2 separate regions of the Homo sapiens genome follow, and region 1 is linked to region 2. The links come from fine-mapping of genetic effects on gene expression. Tissue or cell type: whole blood. Region 2 holds a variant in brackets; the other region holds the start of a gene. All regions are shown on one strand. Distances are between the middles of the regions.

The links. PIP is the estimated chance that this variant, and not a neighbour inherited with it, causes the effect. A credible set is the group of variants that fine-mapping cannot tell apart.
Region 1: it holds the start of POPDC2, and the variant in region 2 is the best candidate, but not a certain one, in a credible set for the expression of POPDC2 in whole blood (TOPMed, PIP 0.55).

Annotation. Positions count from the first base shown.
Region 1 is chr3:119,657,941-119,663,319 of GRCh38, reverse strand. It overlaps POPDC2 (popeye domain cAMP effector 2), which reads left to right and starts at 2,731. Exons shown (of 4, transcript NM_001369919.2): 1 at 2,731-3,387. The coding sequence starts at 2,897. RefSeq lists an enhancer at 427-476.
Region 2 is chr3:119,625,355-119,630,733 of GRCh38, reverse strand. PLA1A (phospholipase A1 member A) reads right to left here. Exons shown (of 11, transcript NM_015900.4): 10 at 1,869-2,033; 11 at 923-1,350. The coding sequence ends at 1,266. Among named protein-coding and RNA genes, the nearest start is that of PLA1A, 30 kb to the right of the region's middle. The variant C/TC (reference allele first, on the strand shown) is at 3,100.

The DNA.
Region 1 (5,379 bases), 33 kb before region 2:
GTCTCTTTAATGGGTCAGGGCCAACCTATTTGGCAGGTCTCCTAAGAAAGATGAGCTGCTTTGAAATTGTATCTTGGGCAGAGCTTTGGTTGCTTCTTCATTTCTATGCTTCTGACTTCCCTGCTTACAGCTGGCAGGGACAGCTACTCTGGAAGCTCAGGGGCTGCATGTCTGTGATAGAAGGATGAGCAGCTGCTGCTTGTTAAAGTAGGGGGGTTGTTTGGGAGGCAGGCAAGTGATGTAAAAACAGTATATGGAAATCCCCAAACCCCACTGTTAAAATGATGTCAGGGGTCCAAATCATGTCCATGGAGTGACCTCAGTGACATTTCTTCTCCAAATACTCTAGCTCTTTACTGATTTTTTTCCTCTTAACTTAGAAAGGAGGAAATAAGGTATATATTTGTTGGTCAGATGATTTTAATGAGGTTAAGAAAAAACTGGCTTCCTTCAACATGCCATGCATTTTCATGCCTCTGTGCCCGTGCTTCTGCTGTTCTCACCACTAGAAATGCTGTTCTCCCCACTAGAAATGCTATTCTCCCTCTACCTGCCTGGTGAATTCAACCCCTAAACCTCAAATTAGAGGCCAGCCCTTCTTTGCATCTTCCCTCCCTGATGCCACCCTTCCTTCTAGGCTGCCACCATCCTTCAAAGTTAACTTGGTTGTTGTGCTTCACATACTGAACTGCCTTTGTTTTTTGAGGTCTCTTTACCCTAACAGGGTGAAAGTTTCTCTTGAGGATCTTTGATGCCCAAGGGCTTAGCTCATAAAAGGCACTCAATAAATATTTGTTGAGTGAAAACATCTCCTTCTCACCATATTTGACAATTTTGAATTTCTCATAAATTTTCATCAAGTTATAGCAGTATAGTAAAAGTCCTTATGAATTGAGTCCTTGATTAGTTCTGGGAGGTTACTGAGCACCCCGCCTGTACTTCAGGGGCGATAGGAGTAATGGGAGTAAGTGCTAACCCAGCAGCAGGGAGGAAGAATCAAGGAGTCATTTGGAATCCAGAGAGTCACATTTCTTTTTCTTTCTTTCTTTCTTTCTTTCTTTCTTTCTTTCTTTCTTTCTTTCTTTCTTTCTTTCTTTCTTTCTTTCTTTCCTTCCTTCCTTCCTTCCTTCCTTCCTTCTTTCCTTCTTTCTTCTCCTTCCTTTTTTTTTTTTTTTTGACAGAATCTTGCTCTGTCACCCAGGCTAGAATGCAGTGGCACAATTTTGGCTCACCACAGCCTCTGACTCCCAGGTTCAAGAGATTCTTGTGCCTCAGCCTCCCCAGTAGCTGAGACTACAGGTGCCCGCCACCACGCCCAGCTAATTTTTATACTTTTAGTAGAGACAGGGTTTCCACCATGTTGGCCAGGCTGGTCTCGAACTCCAGCCTCACTCAGGTGATCCACCCGCCTCAGCCTCCCAAAGTGCTGCGATTATAGGCGTAAGCCACTGTGCCCAACTAACATTTCTTAGCCTAATGTTTGCATACTCCAGCTTTATCTCTTGGCAGCCCAAAGTAGATTCCTAGGTTCAACCAGAAGTTCCTTGAAAATTGTCAGACTTCATAGAAGTGTGGAGTTGGGAGTCATGGATCTAGTACTGTACTTCCACTTACTGGCAAACCCCTTGGGACAGAGTATTAAGTTTGACAGACTTGGGTTCAAATCCTGGCTCTGCCACTTAGACCATCTGTGGGAGCTTGTTACCTCTCTGAGCCTCAGTTTCTTCCAGATCTAGAAGGAGAATAATATTTATTTTGAAGGATTGTTGTCACAACTAACTTATAAGTGTATAAAATGCCTAATCTAGGTTTGGCACTTCATGGGTGTTTAATAGGTGGGAATTATAATTTGGAAGCACCGGAGTGGGTGGGATGATGATCTGGGCAATGTATTATTATTTGTTTACTATTACCAGATCCAGATATATGCAGGGGAAAGCCAGCTTAGAATTCAAAAAGCCACTTTACATAGCTACTTTTGTTAAATGGATGTCAAATAAATACATAATGATATTTGCAGTGTGACTTAATAAAGGCCTTCAGGGGGTTTTCCAGCTTTCACTGTTAGGATTTTTTCTGATAATAGTCCCATACTTTCCTACTCTGATGTGTCCTCACTCAGAAGCACTGTCTGGCTCTCCCCAAAGGGAGCTCGGGACAGTTTCCTGCCTGAGGTGTTCAGGTGAATTCTGTGCTCACTTTTCCTTTCTCTCTCCTTGTCTGTCTCTCTGACCCTGAGGTCTTATCTTGTCCTCTGGGAGGTATGTTAAGTGCTCTGCCAGGCTGCCTGTGCCTGGCCTGTTTTTTCTCACTGCCAGTACCTCTTGGATTCCAATTCCAAACATGGTATCCATCTGGGGTCACCCTTTCTTCCGGTGCCAAGAGAGAACACATTCCAAATGGAACACAAATGTGCCTCCCATGCTGGCTCTCCTCATTCTGCTTGGGAAAAACAGAGAGCAGGATGTGGCCGCATCATCCCACGCTGCTGGACTTTTCAGTCCTGTAGTGCTACTTTCCCTTGGGACTATTTAGGTTTTTCTGCTAAGAACCAAATTTGAAGACTCCCAAGAAACATGGAACCAAGGAAGCTTGCCAGAGCTCTGCAGGGAGAGCCAGAGCCTTGCTGAGACAGCGGGGGTGGTGGGGAGGAGAGAGGGGGGGAGAGGGGGAGAGAGAGAGAGAGAGAGAAAGAGGTTTTTAAATTCTCCATGAAGTGTACTATGTTCCATCATTCCTTCCCAAAGCCACCGGAAGCATTCCTTCTAGGAAAGGTGGAGTCGGTAGTGAGAAGCCGGAGGTGAGAAGACCCCTGAGCGGATGGATTCATTCATTTTCTGAATTTCCTATGTGAGGACAGTATTAGAGCCCAGTGAGGCTTTGAGAGGCCCCAAAGATGAGCGCCAACAGCAGCAGAGTGGGCCAGCTTCTCTTGCAGGGTTCAGCGTGCATTAGGTGGAAGCAGGATGTGGAAGGGGCTGTCTACCACCTAGCCAACTGCCTCTTACTCCTGGGCTTCATGGGGGGCAGTGGGGTGTATGGATGCTTCTATCTTTTTGGCTTCCTGAGTGCAGGTTACCTGTGCTGCGTGCTGTGGGGCTGGTTCAGTGCCTGTGGCCTGGACATTGTTCTTTGGAGCTTCCTGCTGGCTGTGGTCTGCCTGCTCCAGCTGGCACACCTGGTATACCGCCTGCGTGAGGACACCCTCCCTGAGGAGTTTGACCTCCTCTACAAGACGCTGTGCCTGCCCTTGCAGGTGCCCCTACAGACATACAAGGAGATTGTTCACTGCTGCGAGGAGCAGGTCTTAACTCTGGCCACTGAACAGACCTATGCTGTGGAGGGTGAGACACCCATCAACCGCCTGTCCCTGCTGCTCTCTGGCCGGTAAGCTACTCTATCCATTGCCCAGAATTTCTTTCCCCAGCCCACACTTCTCATTTCCTAGTGTGTCCCTTTCCATTTCATGTCCCTTTCCATTTCGTGTCCCCTTCCATTGAGGGAAGGATGTGACAAGTCAAACAAACCAAAATAGATTTTTCTAAGAGTGGGGTTGCTTCCTCTTTCTTGGCATTTTCCAAGAAGAAACCAGTTCATGAGGCATCTTGGTTGGCAAGAATGATTGTATGTGCACTTGCTGCTGGAAGGTGTGCAGTGCGTGTGTCTTGAGCCTGGGCCTTAAATAACCCCTCTACCATCACCACACACATATCAGTGTGTCATGCCTAAGCTGCAGCAATATCTCTGTAAGCTTTGAAAAACTAACATTTCAATAAGGTTAATCTGTTCCTTACTCAAATTCAACATTTGCTAAGCACCAACTGTATTCAGGGAACAATGCCAGAAATGGGAGGTCGGGATAGCGGGGTGGTTCTCATAACCCCTGTTCCCTGCCAAGGCATCAAGCAAACAGCCCCACTTGTGTTTGGGGTAGCTGTATGTAGCCAGGTAGGGAGAGTGAATACCCCTTGCCCACCTTTCCATTTCCAGTTGTTCTATTGAGGTTCTTGAAGACTAAGAAGTCAAGTACAGTACTGTAAATCTGAGGGCCCAACAATGGGAGAAGAGAAGTGATACACCTATCTCATCAAGGCTTTTGTGGAAGCACCGCCTCTTTTGGAGAAGGCTGACAGTCAGATATGGGCAGAAATGGTCTTAGTCAGGATCAGTGTATGCCCAGTCAACCTGGATGTGAATGTTGGGCATTGATTTCTTCTGAGAAAACATCACGGGGCTCTGTGCTACACACTTAGTAGGCAATTGTGGATTTTTTTATACTGCCCTAGTGGCTCTTGAGCCCCACAACCCCCACTCCACCAGCTTTCTTGAGACCAGGAGAATGTGATAGAAAAGGTAAGATGGCAATTAGAAGGCTCCAATTCCAAGAAAAAAAAAAAAAAAAAGCAAATCCAGATAATACTGCCAACCACACAATGGAGAAAAAAGTTTGACAATGATGCTAATGGTACTACAACTACCACTAATAGTAATAATACGTGTTTGTGTATTCATTTATAGAACCTGAAGTATCATGTATATATGTTTTGATTTTGTTTGAACTCAGAGGTCCTGGATAGAGTGAGCTAGGAGGGGAGACATTTTGTGAGGGTACATTTCATTTCATTTATTGGTGAACTGAAAGTGTAAACCAATGCGATTATTTGTAAACAGATATAGATGTAAATACAAATACATATAACTATTGTGAAAATGTTTGCACCTATAGTTCCATGCTTAAAGACAATTTAGGGAACTTGCTCATTCATGAGACCCATGATGTTATAGCTCGTCTGTTCAAAGGAGGAAATTGAGAGCAGCAGAAGTGCTCCCTCCAGTGTAGGGTGCCCATTTGCTGGAAGCATGTATGGTTACTGTATAGTTCAGTTAGGATAGATTTACTGTGAACTTGTATAAGATCACTTCCCAGTGAAGGGGAGAGGGGGGCTTGCCCTTGGTGTAGCTTTTCCTGGTATACTTAGCATCAAAAGGCTGAGTCAGAAATTAGACAATTTTGATTTTTTTTTTTCCTGCCTTTCAAGGTTTGGAGTAAGAGTTTTGTTATCTTTCAGTGTCACCCTGTCTCAGCTTTGCTGAGCTGGACATAGAGGAAAAGGCTTCTAGTCTATGACTGGGCTCTAGTTTTAAAGGAGAATCACTGAACCTTGGGCTGGTTACAGTAAGGGACCAAACATCTCAAAGCAGCAGACAAGAACTTTGTGCCAGGAAGTGGGGACTCTTGTGCAGACTTCCACATCTCACATGCACACTGTTCTCTAGAGTCCTTCACTCAAACCTCAGAAGTCTTTTTGTTTTGTTTTAATAAAGGAAACCAATCTCTTTCAAAACTCAGAGAGGGAAAGTGACTTTCTCAAAGTCTAT
Region 2 (5,379 bases):
AGATGAAGTAATTGCAGCCTGTTGCTTACATCATTCTCCCTGTCTTCATTGTGGAGAGTGAATCAGCAAGTCAGCAGTTTCCTTTTAAAGCTCATTTATTTATGTTTTTTAAAAAGTGAATTTAAAGAATAAAAGAATCCGAGGCAACCTGGATTTGGGAAAGTGGTGAAGGCGTGTGCCATATCTGTTAGTTCCGCACCCCCTTCCCATCCACTCTCCAACCTTCTCTGTCCTGCTGTATGCCCCGGGCCTGGTTAGGCCATGTCAATGTGTTATTTGTCCTCTGGCTTCTGTTGGGGGTCCTTAATGGGGAGCACTAGCAGGAAAATGGGAGAGGAAGAAGAGTGAAGTCAGAGAACCTGTGCTTCTGCTCCCTCCCTGCGGGGTTGCTGCTGGCTGGCTGTGTCCCTGCACTGCAGGTCTGCAGCCTTCTGGTGCTTCCCCTCCTTCTCTGGCCTCTTCACAGGTAGGGTAGTAGCAGCTTCTACTGCCAGTAGCTTCAGGGAACTGCATTATCCCTGTGGTTGCCCCACAAAAGACTATGGCAAATTGTCCTTTTCTTAAATTCTCCTCAAATAACCCAGATTGAGCGCACCATCTGTTTTTTGCTGGGCTGCGGCTGATACAAGGTTATTTACAAAGATCAAAGTTTGGGAAACACTAACCCAGAGGAAATCTACCTGTATTCCCCAAGATCTCTCTGATCCCTCAAACCTTCCAGATATCCAGAGGAGGTAATGGTAAGGGTTGGTAAATGGTGCCATCTTCCTCCCTACCCTTCATCCCCTCTCTTTTTCCAAGTACTTCTTTTAGTTGCTATTTTAATACCGATAATGCAATACTGTTTTCTCCAATCCCACAGAGTATAAATCTCAACTTTTTGTAGGTAACAGAATTCCATTCAAGTAAAACAATTAAATGATTCAGATACTCCATGAAGTTTTATTTTTAAAAAATTGTTTACCCTGTACATGTTTCTATTGAATCCTAAGTACGAATGCCCAAGGAGATAAAGCAAGTGCAGTTAAGTATGCATGGGAAAGCTAAAATGGGTATGTACATAAGATCGGCAAAGGAAACCAAGTTCTGTAAAATGAGTTCTCCCTCCCCTCCAGGGTAGCTGATTATGAGGAAAATAAGAAAGAGCTTTGCTTTTCTCCTTAGTAGTAATGGTCTACAATAAGCTGCACACACACATCCCTCATCACACCTCTCTCTCAAAAAAAAAAAAAAAATGCAGGGAGATGTGTCCTGCCCAGGTTAAACTACACACAGGCTATCTTCAGGTCACAGGAAACAGTCACACTTGCTTGTAAGTTCACTGGTTCAGGTAAGCAGACCATCTTTTCTCTGGAAGAGAAGAGCAATAAGAGAGCAGTGGCTGGTGAGGAGACAGGGCTTGGCATTGTGTGGCTTTTGAATTCCCATGATGTCTGGTGAAAGAAATCTGCAATCACCTACAATTAAGAGCCAGTTCCTGTGGTCCAAGTGCCCAGGGGTGGTAAGGTTAATGACATAAATGCCTTTAGAGGAAGGGAAAGGGGATGTGGATTCTGGATCCACACCCATGAATGTGACCCATGACACAGTTGGAGTGGAGGCCACAGAGGAGAAAATATGCAATGAGAAAACTTTGTTCTAATAAAATCTTACATAGAAACCAAATATGCAGAACAAATACAGTGGAATTTCCCCAACCCAAGATGGTCCCACAGGAGGTTCTGGAAAACACCGGGTGTCTGTCATCTCTGCTTCTAAGATGATAATCACTATGATGAGATTGAACCTCAATAGGCAGCACATCTAATGCCAAGACTGGTCTTTGATGTGTGAGTGCATCTGGTGCAGAGGTGAATACTGGGGCTTACCTGTCATTGACAGGCAAAAGGGCAGTGCAGAACTTCCCAATAATGGTAGTCCGGTCTTTTTTCCAAACTCGGTTGGAAGACTGAAACTTGAATTTCACTTGGTTTATCTGGCATTGTGGGGTGGCATGGGCTATGATTCCTTTCCCATAGCGTTGCTGCTTAGGTCTGCAAGAAAAGGGTAAAGGGAAAGTAAATGACTGTAGCCCTTACCACCTGTACTTCCCCTTTGGCTCCGATCGGGCTCTGCTGGTGGCACTGGTTGGCTGTCATGCACCAAGGGGTTAGCTCCTTACCACAGTCCTTTGTGTCACCTTCACCAGCCCCTCTGCCCACACCTACAGCTTTGAATATGACCAAGAAAGTAGTTGTTGATTTTTTAGAATAAACAAGTGGACACTGCAACAAAATAGTAGCTCCTGGATTTTCATATCTGGAAAAACTGTTCCTCGTTCTTGGATTCCTAGCTGGAGGAGATCTTCACCTTCAGATCTAATTACCCAGAAGTAGAAACCCTCTTTTAGGACATTCCTTTTCAAAGAATTCTGTGTAAGGACTTTTCTGTTTTAGGCTAAGTATGAATGTGTGGGTGGAAACAGCAACAAGAAAACATCATGAAGCGCAGACAGAGTTGGGTGGAACCCAGGTTTGTCTTCCCAGCTGTATGGCTTTGGACAAGTTACCTAAGCTGGCAAGGTGGCTGTGGAGTCACATAGCAACTAGGTGTAAGTTCCAGCTTCCCTACATGCTGCTATGAACTTGAACCGTAGGGTTTGGTTCATACTGACTTCAGCTGAGGAGACTCAGAGTGAAAATGGCATCCAGTTCTGTCTTAACCCAGCCTCTTGGCTTTGCCCCCCCAGATTCCCTTTATGTTTAAAGATTCAGGCACCACTTTGGACTGAGACAAAGATGAGGGAGGAGTATGAAGTGATCAACCTAGCAGGGTGCTTCCAAAAGGGCTGTGGTACCCCCTAGGTACTAGGTACTGGAGACAAAAGCAAAAAATCGTGAGATTCAATGAGGAAAGTCTTCACGCTGAGTGCAAGGCACAGCCCAGCCAGCAGATCCTGAGGGTGGTGAGTGGGGGATCAAGGAGGGCGCCCAGCAGAGCTGCACCACCCAGCTAGGGAAGGAATTTGACTTGTGGGGCCCTTTGTGATCCTCCCTGGAATCCAAGTGGGACTCTGAAAAAGAGGAAAGAAGGAGGGCGCTGCGTTCCTCTCGGCGGGGG[C/TC]AGGGGTGGTGTGGGGAACCACCCTTGCCAACTGGGTTTCCTGTTCCTTTCTGGCCTTCGCAGAGTGGTGATAGGGCCTCTTTGTGTTCTTTTTAGTCCAGTGTTAGTCATATCACTTGTTTTTTCCTTCTGAGGGAAGATCATGTATAATTTTGTTTAAAAACCATTCCCTCTTTTTTTAAATTCACAAGTCTTTTGAAATATTACAGAGGGAATAAATAAGATTGTTTCCTTTAAGCTTAGACTGAAGAGTTTGTAAAATACAAGGAATATGAAAAATCTTTTAAGTGAGTGGTTTGGGGAGTTGGCCCAGGTTAATTCTCCAATTAGAAGGAAATCTTAGCGTCGCATAAAGCTATAGAAATTTGGAAAAAGACCACACATAACCTCCCCGTTTTTCCCCCAATTTCTGATCTGCAAGAAGTGAATCATGTTCTGGTGCCTTCTTCAAAAGAGTTATGTGAACCTCTTCATGGAGGAGGAAGCGCTAATCTGTGGATGTTGACTGGAATTACTCGGGGAGCTTTTAAAATGTAGCTGTGGAGCCTATGCCCAGAGACCCTGATGTGATTGGTCTGGGTTGGGGGGCTTGGCGTCAGTATTTTTTAAAGCTCTCCAGGTGATTCTAACGTGCAGTCAGGGTTGTGGGTCATTTTCATGACTCCTGCCAGTGTTGCTGGACCTACCAATGGGCTAGAAGATGATGAAAACACCCTTCTAGAAGTAGCACAACCTTGAGCGGGTCTAATGAAAGGTACTTGGCTTACTGATATCCAGCCACAATCTGCAAGGCTCTGTGGGCACCTGCAGGCCTGTGCTGGAATCCTGATGGCTGTACCTAGCTGTGTGACTTTGGGTGAGCCAGAAGGAACACCAGCTAGTGGCCACGGTTTTGGGAGTGAAATGCACTCCTTCCAGCAGAAACTTGTAGTGCCTCACAGCAGAGTTCATGTCCAACATCCCAACCCGAGAAATATCTCCAAACTCACATCTGATCTCATCACTGTCCTGTTTAAAACTCCCAGTGGCTCTCCAAACTACTCTCAGGATAAAAACCTGTCCTTCAAGGCCTGGCAGGGTCTGGCTCTGACTTGCCTCTCCAGCCTCACAGCATCCCCACAACCCCAAATCTGTGCTCCAGACACACCAGAGGTGTCACATTCTCTCTAAGCCTGGCCTGGGTAGCTCCTGGAAAGCCTGCTCATCATTTCCTTGGACTCAGTCAGACTCTGTCTTCTATGCTGTCACTCTCAGGGCATTGCTCACTCATTTAAGTGTGTGTGCACTGGTCATTTCCCTGTTTGCTCTGGACTGATCTATTCCCCTGCAGGTTCCCCCACCAACAGGTTCCAGTGAGGTCTAACCCAGTGGAAGCATGCTCAGGTGGGTGGCTGCTTTGGGCAGGGGTTCCAGAGGGGCCGCACTTCCCATGGGTTCAGCTCCTGCCAAGCAGCCTTCCCTGTGGACCCAGCTTTGCCAACTCCACTCCTGCTTTGTCCCTCTAGCCTAGGGTTGTATTGGCTCCTGTTGTGATTAATCTCTGCATTGTGTCCCCATCTCTGTTTTCCAGCTCATCCAACACACTTGTAATGAGTTCACTGTGCTAAATTCCTTCTCTTGGACCTCCTCTGTTTTCCTGACCGGACTCTCACTGAGACAGTGACATTATCTGACAATCTGTCTCCCGCTGGCTTGTGAATAACTAACCGGTTGCTTTTTAAAGAAGCATGCACCATGGCTGCTGACTTCCTATCCCCTGCAGGCTGTGGCTCCCTACAGTTGGGGTTCCTTGCCCTCTCACTTCAAGCGTAGTCCCACCAGCCCCCAAGCCCAAGTCTGCCCCAACAAAGGAAGGGAATGACTACCCCCAGTTTCAGGAATCACCCAGCACCAAGCCCTCCTGGCCGCTAGTCTGGCCCTCAGCTCGCACTCCGTTGCTGACTGACCCTGTGCCTCAGATTCCATTCTGGTAACTGACCCAGAACTGCTCTCCTTTCCCAGGAGTGGGTGCTCTCCAGGCTCTGGCTAGCCCTTCCTGGGCTGGTGACTGAGGCCCTCCTCCCTACTGACATCCCTGATACCCGCACTGTCTGGATTCCAGAGTACTGTTTCCTCTCAGGGACCTGATTCCTATGTCCTCTCCATCTGTTGGGACATGCCATCCCTGCTGCCTGCTTGCCCTGCCTACTCTCATCTGAATCTGCTATACTTGGACCCACTACTGAACAGCTCCTCAGCATGTGTCTGTGGCTGGATCTATAGTAGGTGCTGCCCCCAGCC